Linked DNA regions of Homo sapiens: region 1 is linked to region 2. A link means that fine-mapping ties the variant in region 2 to the expression of a gene that starts in the linked region. Tissue or cell type: whole blood. Region 2 holds a variant in brackets; the other region holds the start of a gene. All regions are shown on one strand. Distances are between the middles of the regions.

Region 1 (8,103 bases), 190 kb after region 2:
TGTACTGATCAGCTGACAAAAATGTTGTGAACAGGAGGCTCACAGCAACTGAATCCTGTATTTCCCCTAGGAGCGATGGTTTGGTATGTGCTAATTCAGTGTCTGCAGTAACTTTATAGAACGTAACTACCATGGTTAATGAGAATCAGCTGTAAATGTGGAACAGGCAGGAGGACCCTTCTTACTGAGCTAACTTTTAATAACAAGAGTCCCCGCCAGCTGGCGAGAAAGCTGCTTGTCCAATTTAAAAATAGCTTGGTAAATCCACAAAGAGTGCCAAATAAATTCTGGAGCAAGTCCAGAATTTATTGTTGTAGATTGCAAACAAGCATCTCTTCGAGTAGACCCGCTGTGCTATCCAATACAAAAAAAAATACACCACAAAATAGTTCATTTTGTTACATATACATATGTATTTTTATAGGTATATTGCATAGAAAAAAGGTCTAGAATGACATACAAAATGTTAACAGTATTATCTCTGAAAGCTGTTTTCTTTTCCCTGACAAAATGCTGAAAGACATATAGAAGAAAGCAATAAGGATAAATATGCAAGAAAACATAACGCTATCTGAAGTCTCATTGCCACTGAGTGGCCACTGAATACCTAAAAAGTGGCTAACTCGAATTGAAATGTGCTAGAAGTGTAAAATATGCGCACGGGGGGTTTTGAAGAGGGAGTTCAAAAAAGAAGGTACAATGTTTCAAGAATCTTTTTTCATTAATAATTTTGTATAAATGATTACATGTTGAAATATTTTTGATATCTTAGGTTGAATAAAAACATTATTAAAAATAATTTTTTTTTTTTGGAGACGGAATCTCGCTCTGTCGCCCAGGCTGGAGTGCGGTGGCACAATCTCAGCTCACTGCAACCTCCGCCTCCTGGGTTCAAGTGATTCTCCTGCCTCAGCCTCCCGAGTAGCTGGGACTACAGGCCTTACCACCACACCTGCTCATTTTGGTAATTTTAGTAGAGATGGGGTTTTACCATGTTCGCCAGGCTGATCTCGAACTTCTGATCTCAAGTGATCCACCCACCTCAGCCTCCCAAAGTGCTAGGATCACAGGCGGGAGCCACTATGCCCAGCCAAAATTAATTTTACCTATTTCTTTTTACTTCTTACATGTGGCTACTAGAAAAATTCTAAATTACATACGTGACTCACATCATATTTCTATCGGACCTGGATTCCTAGTGGAACAATGAACTCAAATCTTGAAGTAGGCTTTTGTCTCTCATTTTCAGGGTAACAGATAGGGCAAAATTCACAACAAAACCAAACAAAACCAAAAAAAGGATGATATCTGTTGCACAGACTTCTTTATCCAGCTAAAGAATTGCATTTGCCATTAGTGGCAAATGACTCAATGTTGGCTTAAGGGATGTAATTGGAAGTATTGTGTGCGACTCCCAGAAGTCTCCTTAAATTGTAGGTGGCTTGCACTTCTCTCTTCCCCCCTCCTCAAATCCTGTTGCCTGAAAGATGGATACAATGGCTGATGCTCTTGCAGTCATCTCAGACAAGGAGTTTGAAGGTCACAGCATAGACATGGCAGGGCGGTAAGCCAGAAAGATTCTTGACTTACCTCCAAATTCCTTCTACTGGAGAAAGAAATAACTTTCTATCTTGTTTATGCTAGTGTTATATTGGGATTTTCCATTATACATAGTGATTGGAAACTGACCTTTGAGTTATTCTGGAAGGAGTCTATCAGCAGAGACAGCTTCTTCTGCAGTTCCTGCAAGTCCCTTGAGATACTCTGGGGCTCCTCTTTTGCCATTCTGAAGCTCACTTCAATCTCTTTAGGGATGAATTATCCTACCAGTAAATTCTCCAGTGCAGCCCGCGGTCCAATCTCTCATGTCGCTCTGTCTCTTGCTGTTACCAGAGGAAACAAAAGCCGTTAGTGGTCTTCATCCATCTGGTTCGACGAGAGCTTCTACCATCCTCATACCTTGATGGTGGGCATGCAGACGGAGGGTAACCTGGCAATATTCACAACAATTTCAGATTGCACACACTTCAATCCAGGAATTTATATTCCAGGAACATGATGGAAATAATCCAACAGGTATCTCAAAATGTACTAAAAGGCTGTGCATTGCATCCCTGTTTATAACATATAATGACTAGCAAAACATTGGAAAGTAGCTAACTGTATTTCCATTAGGAGAAAATTGGTTAAATAATGATAAATTCAGTCATTAAAATGATAGTGTGACTGTTTAGTGATGTGAAAAGATGTGTATGATACTTTTAAAAAAAGATGATAAAATGTTAATAGTATTATCTCTGACAGCTTATGTTTATTTTTTAGCTTGACAAAATGCTGAAAATATACAGAAAGCAAGAAAGCTGAACACACTATTTCAAATCTCATTGCCTTTTATTCTCCCTAGAAAGCTTTCCTTGTACAACAGTAGCCTTGACCTGTTTCTCTTCTTTATTACTGTACAGGTTGGCTCCCAATTCCATCATTCCATACATCATCATCTACTTACTTGTGGGTAAGTCTATCCCTGCTAAGGAGAACTGCACCTCGGGGGCAGACCTCACCACAGTAATTATACTCTAACTAAACTGCCTGGAATTTTGAGGGGTGTCCCAATCTCATACAATTTTTACTTATTTTTAATAAAGGCAATTGGTTAAATTAGATATATTTTTTAACCCTTGTTGAGTTTTCAAATATAAAAAAAAAATCATTCTTATTTTATATTTCCCAGAACTGGCTGGACACAGAGATATCTTTTCCATTTCTCCCTTTAAACTGACCTGACCTACAGTACAAATGCTTAAAAGATTGTGTCCACGTGGCCAAAATTAATTGAGAGATCCTCACATTTATTTATCATATAGGGGGTAATTTTATCTACTACTAAGCTGTACAGGGTCTAGTATGCAAATTAAAGCACATTTTAATCATCCCAGCTAGACATCCTCTGCTACTTCCCTTTTGTAAAACAAGAAACCCTTTGGAGGGGAAAGTTGAGGAGGGGACTAATCCCACCACCCCACATTCTCTCTTTGAAGCTGCCTCTGGCGTAGGTCTTGAACTTGGGATGTTCCCAGCACTCAGTTCCCATAATCTCATCTCTGCAGCAAGCAGAAACAAGCGGAGTTCCCCTTACAGGTCTCCTTTGGCCTGGGAGCCTCAAGTGCCACCCAGACCGGTTTGGGGAGTCCGATGAGAGAGTGCGTGGGGCGAATGCCATCGGCCACAGCCTTCAAATGCGTCTACCTGGCCACCAATTCCCAGACCCCCTGGTCACTCACTCCTCGGAGGGGCCTCCCCAGGCACGGAGCTGTCTCCCGAGAAGGGAAAGCGAGAACCCGGCGCGGCCAAGGAGTGCCCCGCCTTCTTCACGCCTGGGGGACTGGGCCAGGCCAACACCAGCTAACCCTTTCCCCTTCCAAGGCTCCAAATAAATCTCCTGGCCCTCCCACCCCCGAACCTCCAGGGGAAAACGGCTACCTCGAAAGTTCAAGCTGGGAGGAGGGGTCACATCTCTGGTTGGGGGATGGGAGCTACAGGGCGCCTCGAGCTCACACTGGCCGCCCCTCCCCATCCGGGCCCAGCCTTTCAGCGTTCAAAAGCCAGGGAGACCCAAGGAGAGGAGGAAGGGAGTGAAATGCAGGTGGAGAGGGGGTCCGCGTCCCAGAAGGCACAGAGACTGAATAATGGGAACTCAGAGGGGAGTCGAGTACTTAGTTATTAATTTGGGGGTAAAGAAGCCCCCTTTGATACTTGCAGATCTCTCTGCAGCGATGGGGAAGGGGACCTCGGTGGAGAAGAGGGGCTGGGTGGTGAGGAAGGCGCCCGTTTTCAATAATCCTAGGGAGGTTTGCCTCGACGTCTTCCCCAGGTTCCCCAGAAAGGGGCACAGTCTCGGGGTGTGGTGGTGCTAGCTACCATTTTACCTAATCTAGTGGTAGTGTGTGTGTGTATGTGTGTGTGTGTTGGGGGGTGGCGGGGTGAGTGTGCATTTAGGGGTGGGGAGGAATCGTGTCTCCTCGTGCGCTCCCAGCCCCGTCCCGGCGACTCATAAGCAGGAGACGCCCCTTACACTAACCCCGGGGCAGAAAGCTACGGGCGTGGGACCCCGATAGCGCGCTCACGCCGTCGCCCCCGCGCTCCTCCTCTGTCCCCGCCCGGCGAGAGGGGTCTAGCCACCCGGGGCACCCGGACCCCCACCCCCAAGCTCCGAGCTCTCACCTGCTCCTGACCGCCGAGCAGCCCCCACCGCGTTTGCAGGCGAAGCGAAGAGAGGCAGGAGGAGGAACAAGAGGAAGAAGGAAAGAGCGTCCCGAGAGGGAGCCAGAGCCGCCTGCCTCCGCCCCCTGGCCCGGGCACCGCCCCTCGGCTCTTCTCCTCTGGGCTCGCCCCGCCCGTGGCCGGAAGGATCCGGCAAAGGCGCGCCAAGGCCCGGCGCCCAAGGCTTTGCAAAGCGCGCTCGCTCCCACTGGCTTTCGGAGCCACTAGAACAAGCCCTGAGAGGTTGACAGCTGAGGAAACTGAGGCTCAGAGAGTGTCCCTTCCCACACGACTGGCTTGGAGTGAGAAAGCTCAGACCACCTTCAAGACAGGCAGACTGGCAGCCGAGAATGAGTTTTCCAAGGGTGTCAGGGTTTCCCCTCCTGTATGCCTAAAACCAGCTGCTCTGGAACGTCTCTGGCGCTCAAGACACACACGTGATGAAGTATCACCCTGGCTGGAAGTTTTTAACCATGACTGCTCAAATGCGAATGTCATAAGCCAGTGAGATCCTTTCAGATGGATTGGATGTCCATTTTACACATGAAAAAGTCCAGGCTGAGAGAGACAAGATAAATCAATCCAAATTCCTCGGTTTGCATGGATCCAAGTCGGAGCAGGAGCCCCTGTTTCCCCTGGCCCCAAATCTGCCCTATAGAGTAAGGTTTCTGAATAGTATGCTATTGACATTTGGGGCGGAATAATTCTGTTTCTGAGCTGTGGATTGTAGAATGTTTAGCAATATCCTAGCCTCTACCCATTAGATGCCAGTTACAAGAACCGCCCCCCCCCACCTCCAGTTGTGTCTCAAAATATTGCCAAATGTCCCCTGGAAGGCCCCATCGTCCCGAGGTGAGAACCACTGCTATAGAGCATGATGGCAACTTACTGTGTGACTAAGTAACCTCTCTGAACCATGGCTTCAACCATAAATTAGAGAGAGGGATAAGCCCAACCATTGGTCTGCTGTTGCACAGTTCTCAGCCACTTTCCAGACAGGGACCTGTGTTGACCGACCTCTCCTCTTTGCCTGTGGCCATAGCAACCTGGAAAATAAGTCTTTAGATAACAAAAAGCTGGCAGGGTGCGGTGGCTCACACCTATAATCCCAGCACTTTGGGAGGCTGAGGTGGGCAGATCACTTGAGGCCAGGAGTTCCAGACCAGCCTGGCCAACATGGTGAAACCCCATCTCTACTAAAAATATAAAAACTAGCCAGGCATGGTGGTGCGCACCTGTAATCCCAGCTACTCGGGAGGCTGAGGCAGAAGTATCGCTTGAACCTGGGAAGTAGAAGTTGCAGTGAAGACACTGCACTCCAGCCTGGGCAACAGAGTGAGACCCTGTCTCAAAAAAAAAAAAAAAAAAAAAGAAGCAATCACAGGGTTGTAGTGAGGACTGGTGCAATAGTGTGGCTGTGGCTGTCGAGAACTTAGCACCTATTGAGGCACAGAGTAGGGGCTCAAAAATATTTGCTTGGGATGATGATTTATGATGATGATCACGACAATGATATGATAAACCACAGAATCCTGCTGTAATTCCACAATAGCAGAAAGAAGAGCTAATGGTGGGGATAGGACAGACAAGAATCCCTAAATTCTTAAGTTTTAGCCAATCTTGTCTGGCGTCATGCACTTTGTTCAGCTGCAAAATGCTGGGTTCCCCACCCAGGAAAAGATTGTGTGTGTGTGTGTGTGTGTGTGTGTGTTTCCTTAGATTACAGCCTTCCAATCATCATTCCCTAAATGGAAGTTGCTTTGGAAAGCTGAGTTAGGGTTTCCACTGGGATTTTTGTTTAAGAGTGCCATCTAGGGGCGTCTCTGTGAATCTTCAAATTCCTTCCACCTCTGGCATTTTTGGCTGGGCCAGCAGAGTTTTGCTTGTCTTTGTGTGATAGATGCTTCCTCCATCACATCATGTGTTCCTCCAGGGCTGGGATCCTAGCATCTCTCCATAGCATCAGGACTTGGCCCTCAAGGAACATGCAGTGGTTGGGTTAAAAAAATCCACGCGCAGCCTCTCCTATGCTTTCCCAATTACTTGCTGCAATGGACTGAATGTCTGTTCCTCTAAAATCCTAACCCCCAATGTGATGGGATTAGGCATGGGGTTTTTGGGAGGTGATTAGGTCATGAAGGTGAAGCCCTCCTAAATGGGATTAGTGCCCTTATAAAAGAGATCCCAGTGGCTCACACCTATAATCCCACCACTTTGGGAGGCCAAGGTGGGTGGATTGCTTGAGTCTAGGAGTTCGAGACCAGCCTGGGCAACATGGCGAAACCTCTTCTCTACTAAAAATACAAAAGTTAGCCGGGCATAGTGGCACATGCCTGTAGTCCCAGCTACATGGGAGGCTGAGGCAGGAGGATCTCTTGAGCCCAGGCAGTGGAGGCTGCAGTGAGCTGAGATTGCACCACTGCACTCTAGCCTGGGCAACAAAGTGAGACCCTGGCTCATTAAAATAAAATAAAATAAAATAATAAAATAAAATAAAATAAAATAAATAAAATAAAATAAAATAAAATAAAATAAAATAAAATAAGAATAACTCCCAGAGAGCTCTCTTACCCTCTTTCCACCATGTGAGGATACAATGAGAAGTTGGCAGCCTGCAACATGGAAGGGGGCCTTCACTGGAACCAGACCACCCTGGCACCCTGATTGTGAACTTCCAGCCTTCAGAGCAGTGAGAAATAAATGTCTCTTGTTTATAAGCCACCCAGACTTTGGTACTTTGCTATAGTAGCCTCCAAGGATTGAAACTGTTGCTCTGCTTAAACAACTATTTTAGGCCTCAGGAATGAGCTGCCAGGAATACCAGCCTCTGAATAAGAAATGTGTGAAATTTTTTTAGCAACAGATTAAGACCCTAAACTCTTGATAACAAGAGGCAGGGGCAACTTGGAACCTTGCTGACCTCTGCTCCCCATGTTGGCAGATTTGGCAAATAAAAACACACGACACTCAATTAAATCTGAATTTCAGGTAAATAATGGGTAACTTTTTAGTACAAGTACAAGTACAGCCCATGTATTGAATGGGACATGCTTATACTAAAACTTTTTTTTTTTTTTTTTTTTTTTGAGACGGAGTCTTGCTCTGTCTCCCAGGCTGGAGTGCAGTGGCGCTATCTCGGCTTACTGCAACCTCCACCTCCTGGGTTCAAATGATTCTCCTGCCAAAGCCTCCGGAGTAGCTGGGATTACAGGCATGTGCCGCCACGCCCAGCTAATTTTTGTATTTTTAGTAGAGACAGGGTTTCACCATGTTGGTCAGGCTGGTCTCAAACTCCTGACTTTGTGATCCGCCTGCCTCGGCCTTCCAAAGTGTTGGGATTACAGGCATGAGCCACTGCTCCCGGCCCTAAAACATTCTTTTACCTGAAAAATTGTTTGACTGAAACTCTAATTTAACTGGGCACCTTCTGTTTTGTCTGGCAGCCCAATTGAGAAACAAGGCCGGGCATGGTGGCTCATGCCTGAATCCCAGCACTTTGGGAGGCGGAGGTGGGCAGATCACTTGAGGTCAGGGGTTCGAGACCAGGCTGGCCAACATGGCAAAACCCCATCTCTACTAAAAATACAAAAATAAGCCAGGTGTGTTAGCACACGCCTGTAATCCCAGTTACTGGGGAGGCTGAGGCAAGAGAATCACTTGAACCCAGGAGGTGGAGGTTACAGTGAGCCGAGATCATACCACTGCACTCCAGCCTGGGCAACAGAGCAAGATTCCATCTCAAAAAAAAAAAAAAAAGAAAGAAAGAAAAAGAAGATTGAGAAACTTGAAGCCTATATCCTTTCTTAAGAATTATCCAACACAAAGTTGTCAGACAACAAACAA
Region 2 (8,105 bases):
AAACAGCCATGTTCCTCATCCCCCAGAGCGCACCACGGTCACTCAGTACAGCACGTGTGCGCTGCTTACTGCCCTGTGCCTGCTGCTGCCTGTGCTGCAGGAAACAGCCCAGAGTCGAAGGATGGTCACCAGCCACCCGGAAGACAGTCCTGCTCTGGCACGCAAACACGGAGCATCGCAACCGGCCGGCCTCGGCTTTCCAAGAACTCAGACTGTCACTCCCGCCTTCACATTCCAGACCCCAACAGCAGCTGAGCCCGCACTTCTGAGCGCGTGGCTGGGTAGAGCTCCAGAAACTGAGACAATCACAGACATGGCAGGTGCGTCAGGGCTATGACCAGCTCTCAGGACTGGCAGCATCACCTTGTGGGATTCCCCACCATCCTATGAAATCGGCACTAATCCCGTAGAGGCCACCAGGAAGCTGGGGCCACATGGCAGGTGAGGGGGTATGTCAGGTCACCTGTGCAGGGGCAGACCCCATCTCGGCCACACTGGGGCCCTCCCCTGGCAGGAAGGGCAGGGCCAGACAGGGAGAGAAGGGTACTCAGAGGGCACTTCGAGCCAGAAGCAGAAACATCTACCCAGGAGATCTTTGCCAAGACAGACCAGAAGCTGTGGAGACCAACGGACAGGAGGGGGAGGCAGTGAGGCCACAGAGACTGCAGGCCTGCTATGTGCACCCTGGAAGCGGAGTCCTGCAGCCCTCGCCCATGTTCCCCATCCTGGGGGCTCCCTGCTGCCCTCGCACTGTGACACCGATGAAGGTCAGGAGCATGCGGGCACAGTGCCTGCAGGGACAGGGCTGCAGCGAGAGATGACTCACCTCGCTGTCCTGCGTGATCTGGACTTGCTCCCCCTGCGGCACCTTGGCGATGTGGAGGTGTCCCTGTGGGATCCGCAGCAAGAAAAGACACCAAGAAGCATCAGAAGAAAATAAAAAGCAAAGGAAACAAGAAACATCTTCCGGAATGTTTGTTCTTGATTATCTGTTTACAATTCAAAAAGATAACTAAATCCTGAATAGTGCAATATAGTCTGTGGTCACCTCTTTAAATTAAGCTTTTGGTTCACAGTAGTCCCCCTCATCCATGAGGGTTTCAAGAAGCGCCCCCTCCCCCCACCACGTGGACGTCAGAAACCGTGGATGGTGCGGAACCCCGTATATGCTATGCTTTTTCCTGCCCATACGTGCCACACAGCTTGGACATGCTGGACAAAGGAATGACTCACGTCCCAGGCTGGACACAGCAGGACGATCAGACTTCATCATGCTACTACCCAGAAGAGTATGCAATCTGAAACTTACAAATTGTTTATTTCTGGAGTTTCTCATCTAATATTTTCAGATCACAGTTGACTATGGGTAATTAAAACCTAGGAAAGTGGAAGCATGGGTAAGGGGGGGTACTGTGTAACACAGAACATGTTCCAGTACTTCACAAAGGAGCAATAGGTCCCAGGAAAGATATATACATCTTTAAATGTTACTAAACAAGTAAATTTTAAAATGTGCATGACACACAGAAAAGAGGGGAAATAGAAAATCACAATGACACCTCTTTTCAAATGATACGTTCAGCTCTCTGGGGATGCTGGGAGGCTACGCAAGCAGTGTATGGCTGAAGCAGGGGAGCTGTTTGCGTGCCTACACTCACAACAGGGCAGGCAACATTTTTCAAATCAAAGAAACACTCATATGACTATTTAAACAGTTTGAGGAAACACTAACAAATGTGATTCAAAAAAAATCAAAGAATCCACTGTTTATACATATGGGCAGACAAATATTTCCTATAAACCTGTAAATGAAATGAATACTTATCTTATTTGAAATTCTCTCTTAGTCGAAATGGATCTTAAACTCCTGTAGAATGTTCTATGTAAGCCTTATGACAAAGTTATCTACTCTGGAACGCTTTCAAAGAACTTCTTACTAACAAGATGAGAGGAACTGCCATTGTGAATGTCAAATAAATTAATAAGCTTATTAAATAAGATTCACTATTCATAACTGTCTCATCTCCTTTGGAAGAGGAAGGGTAATGCCCCCTCTAAAAGCCCCAGAATTTTCTGGAAGCCTTCCCTCTTCCAGACAGCACGCTGAAGCCACACTGAGATGAGAGCCACGACCCACTCTCAACAGTGGAGGACCTTGTTTCCAGGAGAAAGCCCTGGTAACACGGAGGCACACGATGACCTGTCTTCAGAGGGCCCAAGGGGGCTGGTGCCACTAAAAACATAGGCGATGTCTAGTGGTGCATGTAAAATTTCTAGTCACTCAGCAAAGCTTCCAGAAAAGTCTTCTTCTCAGCCGCCCCCTACTCTCGTGCCACAGAATCCAGGAGGTGTTTGTAGAGGGACTTCACCCGGGAGCGAGCCCCTAGGCGCATCAGACTGACCACAGCTTGGGTCACAAAACCCCAACAGAGAACTCCGCATGGGCAAGGCAGGACATTGACTTGCTGCTGGGACAGTGCCCGCCCAACCTGGGTGTGCTGAGTAACTCCAAGGGAAACGCTGCATGGGAACAATGACCTCAAGCTTTTGCCACTGATCCTAGAAGGAAATTACTCTTTCCCTCAGTAAGAGGACGCCTGCACTTCTGAGCTGAGAAATATTTCCGATGCTTCCCAGGAGCACGAGCTGGGGCAGGGACCACTGCACAGCCTGACCCTTGGAGCTGACTGCCCGCCTGCCTGCTGGCAGGACTGAGGTGAGCTGACTGAACGCCCCACCCCACCATGTGCTTCAATCCCTAGGCTCTGCAGCAGCCGCCCCCACCTGTGAAATGTTAAGAGCTCATGGCCATGATGACCTCTACTTTAAATGGGAACCTTGTGCCTCCTCCCAAGCTATCACTGTGCTCCCGAAACACAGCGGAACTGGTGGAAGCCGCCAGGGCCCTGCCGTGGCCCACCCCGCAGCCCCCTTTCCCAAGGTGCGAGGTGGAGAGGGTACGTACTACTTGCACCTGTCCGTCTTCTCCGATCTGGTGGATCTGCACCTGCTGCACGTTGGCCAGCGCGTAGTGCAGGGCCTGCGGCTGCGGCTGTGGCTGCAGGAGCTCTCTGGCAGGAGGTGGGGTGCTCATCATCGGCTCTGTGGGGGCAACAGGTGTGAACGGGGTGAACGAGAAGTTTCTTAGGCATTGCCTTGTGCAGCATGTGTGCACCCCCGTCCCTCACTCTCGACTCCCACAGCAGAGAAGAGGAAATGCTTCATTTTTCCTCGGCTCACTGCATCTCCACTCTTCTGCAGAGATCACTACGAGTGAGTCTTAGGAACTGAGGTTTCCGACATGGAATGCAGAAGGGCCTGAGAGTGGCGTGATGCTGCTATGACAAAACCCCTTTTAGTCCCAACTTATTTAAATGAATGAAGTTCTTAAAGTGGACATTAAAAGCTGTTTCAGGCTGGCAATATTTGTCCATGGGTAATTAAACTAATAGAGCAAAAGTCTCATCCACGCACTTAAAGATACATTTCCAACAAATTTTACTTGCTGTGTTTAATCAAAATGAGATACATTTGCTTTGATGTACTGTGTATTAATTTTCACTGTAATGATGTCTCAATCATAATTTTCTTAAACTCTTAGAATATTAAGAGCACAGAAAAACTTTAATTTTCATTGTATACACGTAGTTTTGTTGCAGAGAATTATAATGACTAATTTTAAAAAGCTTTTAAGCATAAAAATGTAGTCTGGGCA[C/T]GGTGGCTCACACCTGTAATCCCAGCACTTTGTGAGGCCAAGGCAGCCAGATCACCTGAGGTCACGAGTTCAAGACCAGCCTGGCCAACATGGTGAAACCCCATCTCTATTAAAAATACAAAAATTAGACAGGTGTGGTGGTGGGGGTCTGTAATCCCAGGCACTCAGGAGGCTGAGGCAGGAGAATCACTTAAACCTGGGAGGCGGAGGTTGTAATGAGTCAAAATGGCACCACTACACTCCAGCCTGGGCAACAGAGCAAGACTCCATCTCGAGGGGACAGGGGAGGGAAGCAGAAAGATGAAATTCTGTGAGAGAAGTAGAATGTTGATATGAATGAAAGGAGAAAAATGAAAGACATAAAATTTCTGATTATTAAAGAGAAGCGGGCCAGGCGTGGTGGCTCACGCTTGTAATCCCAGTACTTTGGGAGGCCAAGGCAGGCAAGATCACTTCAGGTCAGGAGTGCGAGACCAGCTTGACCAACATGGTGAACCCTGTCTCTACTAAAAATACAAAAATTAGCCAGGTGTGGCGGCACGCATCTGTAGTCCCAACTACTTGGGAGGCTGAAGTAGGAGAATCACTTGAACCTGGGAGTAGGCGATTACAGTGAGCTGAGATGGCACCATGGCACTTAGCTCCAGGCAACAGAGTGAGCGGGGGAAGGGACGGGGAGGGGCAAGAGAGGGGAGGGCAAGAGAGAGGAAGGAAGGAGGGGGGAGGGGAGGAGGGAGGGGAGGGGGAGGGGCGGAGAGGGGGAGGGGGAGGGGCGGAGAGGGGGAAGGGGAGGGGCGGAGAGGGGAAGGGGAGAGAAAAGCTTTCCATGTATTTTTTACCAATAGCTAATGGTAGGTATTAAATTGCCATAGTACATAGATTCCACTGAATACATTTTTTAAAGTAACAATAAAATGTTGGTTTTTTTTTTTTTTTGAGACAGAGTCTTGCTCTGTCACCCAGGCTGGAGTGTAGTGGTGTGACCTTGGCTCACTGCAACTTCCGCCTCTCAAGTTCAAGCGATTCTCCTGCCTCAGCCTTCCAAGTAGCTGGGATTACAGGCACCCACCATCATGCTGGGCTAATTTTTTTTTTGTATTTTTTTGTAGAGAAGGGATTTCACCAGGTTGGCCAGGCTGGTTTTGAACTCCTGACCTCAAATGATCCGCCTGCCTTGGCCTCCCAAAATGCTGGGATTATAGGTGTAAGCCACTGTGCCCAGCCACATAACAGAATGTTGATACTTGCAATATGCTAGAAATTGCCTAGCTACACTAAATCAGAATCTCAAATTCATGAGATTCAAAGGAGATTCAACATGCCCACCTGCATGCTGCATGTGGAGAGCTTGGCTCCAGCCAAAGACCCTGACTCCACCTGAGCACCTCCAGTGATGGGTCATGTCCCAAAGCAACCACCGCCAGGCAGTGCTGCGTGCTCCACGGCGGTTTCCTGTCCGCCTGAGCAGTTACAGAGCACTCACCACCACAGGTCCTCGAGCAAGCCTTGTGCACCCCAGGAAGAAAATGACAAAATCCCAGCTGGGCTGAAGCCCACCTCCGCGGAGCTGCTGTTCCTCCACTGACCCTCTTAGCACCTACAAAACCAGCCTAATTCTTCACTTATGTGCTGCTTCTCCAGGCATCTAACCATTATCAAACCTTGTGAAATCTCAATTTCTAACCGTTTCCCCAAAGACAACAGTTTCCAGCCCACTGCCACCATGACAGTCTGTCCCTGGACAGCTCCTCCCAGCAGCTCCAAAACGCTCCACTGGGGCCACAGGGTAGACAAGCTAAGAATGGGTGTGCTACAGAGTGCACCTTCCAACCACAAGGGCTCCGAGGAAGCTCCTGCACACCAGCGCAGCCAGCAAAACACTCGGCTTCACACAATGTTACACCACCGTCTACTACTGTGCAAATGTTCTGAGTCTACATTTCCAGCTATGAAATTTCAGCTCATTAAATTTACCCTTTCAAGATTCTGGTATCCTAATGACGCAGGCCAACATATCTGGCAGTCGTCAGGTTATATAACAGCAGCTTCTTGCTCACTAAGGTCCTGGCAAGTCATTTAACTTGGGTTTTGATTCCCCATTGGATGAAGCAGACCGCTAACCTTACCAAATGCACGTACCCGAAACACATGGAAGGCAAGCCTGGCAGCAACTCTCCTCGCTCTTCGAGTCTAGGAGTTCCATACGGTTCTTTTTTATGTCTTCTATTTCTCTCCTTGCTATGTTCCTTTTTTCCTTTAAATTCCTGAATGTAATTTTAATAGATTTCAATGTCCTGGTCAGTTAATTCCAGACAGGGTCCCTTCCTATTTACTGATTTTCTGATCATAGGTCACAATCTCCTGCTTCCTGGTACTCTGGACTAGATACCGGAGATTGTGAATTTTACTTTGTTGGGTGTCTAGGTTTTGCTGTCTTTCTTTTAAAAGTGTTGTTACTTGTGATTTAATGTGATCTTTCTCAGGCTCTCTTAAGCTCTGCCTTTATTCTAGGGACAGTTTAGCCTGCCAGTAGGCATGGCCAGCTAGTGCAGTGACTGATCACTGAGGACTCTGGCTAGTGGGAATCCAACCACCACCCAGCCTGGGGTGAGCTTAGGAGCCATTGAGCTCATGCCTGCCTTGGAATCCCCCAAACACCCAAGAAGGTCCCCGTGTAACCCTCTGCTCTTAAGAACTTGATTCCACAACTTTCTGCTGCCTCAGCCTCTCTCAACTCCAACCCATCTCCTCCATGCAGTGATGTAGCTATCTCTGCCTGGCATCTCCCTGTCCCCTCCTCTCATGTTCCTTCTCTCAGGATCACGGTCCTGTGCTGTTGCTTGTCTAATGTCTTAGGACAGCCGATTCACAGATTTTTGTCCAGATTTCAATGGCAAGAGAATTCAATCTGGTTCCTGCTACTGTGCCTGACAGAAATTGTGCCTGACAGAAATCTCCTCTCCTTGACTTTTTTTTTTTTTTTTTTTTTTTTTTTTGAGACAGAGTCTTGCTCTGTAGCCCAGGCTGGAGTGCAGTGGCGTGATCTAGGCTCACTGTAAGCTCCGCCTCCCAGGTTCACGCCATTCTCCTGCCTCAGCCCCCCGAGTAGCTGGGACTACAGGCGCCCGCCATCACGCCCGGCTAATTTTTTTGACATTTTTAGTAGAGATGGGGTTTTACCGTGTTAGCCAGGATGGTCTCGATCTCCTGACCTCTTGATCTGCCCACCTTGGCCTCCCAAAGTGCTGGGATTACACATGTGAGCCACAGCACCCGGCTTTTTTTTTTTTTTTTTTTTTTTTTGAGATATAGTCTCGCTCTGTCACCCAGGCTACAGTGCGGTGGCATAATCTCAGCTCACTGCAACCTCTACCTCCTGGATTCAAGCAATTCTCCTGCCTCAGCCTCCCAAGTAGCTGGGATTAGAGGCATGTGCCACCACACCTGGCTAAGTTTTGTATTTTTAGTAGAGACGGGGTTTCACCATGTTGTCCAGGCTGATCTCGAACTGCTGACCTCAGGTGATCAGTTTGCCTCAGCCTCCCAAAGTGCTGGGATTACAGGCATGAGCCACCACGCCTGGGCTCCCTGACTTTTAAACAACATTTTTTACAACTATAAAATTAATGCAGTGCTTATTGGAAATAACTGAGAAACTACAATAAAAGACAAAGGGAAAAATAAAAATTATCCTACTACCTAGAGATAGGCACTGTAAAAATGATCACACATAAATTTTTAATCAACTTCCACATATACCTATATATTTGCAATAAAAATGGTATCATGCCATAAGTATAGTCCTCACATCGCTCTCTGCTGCCCAGCTATGAATATTCAAGAGCAGAAGTCAAGTCATGAGCAATATTCCTACAGCCACATTTCAATAGCCACAGGTTACGCTGCTACATGGTATTTCAGTGAATGCCCCTAACCCACACCCTAGGACTGCTACCTCTCTCAAGTCCCAAGGCAGAATTCCTCATTGTAGTAGAAAGGCCACTGTACTCCAGCCTCAGCAACATAGCAAGACTCTGTCTCAAAAAAAAAAAAAAAAAAAAAAAATTAGGAGATATTAGAAATTGCCAGATTAGCAAAAGCTAAGAAAATTTGCTAATACACCTGCCCTATAATATAGTTCTTTCAGCTGAATGAAAGGACATTAGATGGTAACATGAAGTCACATGAAAAAATAAAGAGCTCCAGTGAAGGTAACTACATAGGCAGATATAAAAGCCAGTGTTATGATAATGGTTTCTTTTTCCTTCTATATGATTTAAAAGATAAATGCATAAAATAATGATAAACATGTTAATAGGCACACAATATAAAGATGTAATTTGCAAAAATACCAACACAAAGAGGGGCTGAAGCTTGACAGAAGAGCTTT

What was found. PIP is the estimated chance that this variant, and not a neighbour inherited with it, causes the effect.
Region 1: LDAF1 starts here. The variant in region 2 is fine-mapped to the expression of LDAF1 in whole blood (TOPMed, PIP above 0.99).

What each region holds. Positions count from the first base shown.
Region 1 is chr16:21,154,865-21,162,967 of GRCh38, reverse strand. LDAF1 (lipid droplet assembly factor 1) reads right to left here and starts at 4,294. Exons shown (of 5, transcript NM_001301771.2): 1 at 4,222-4,294; 2 at 1,690-1,883. The coding sequence starts at 1,785. It also overlaps a transcript of DNAH3 not described here. RefSeq lists enhancers at 3,013-3,162, 3,297-3,797 and silencers at 4,055-4,234, 4,285-4,414.
Region 2 is chr16:21,342,152-21,350,256 of GRCh38, reverse strand. It overlaps the pseudogene SNX29P1. Among named protein-coding and RNA genes, the nearest start is that of CRYM, 68 kb to the right of the region's middle. RefSeq lists a silencer at 1-83 and enhancers at 1-443, 444-1,251, 2,404-2,963. The variant C/T (reference allele first, on the strand shown) is at 3,716.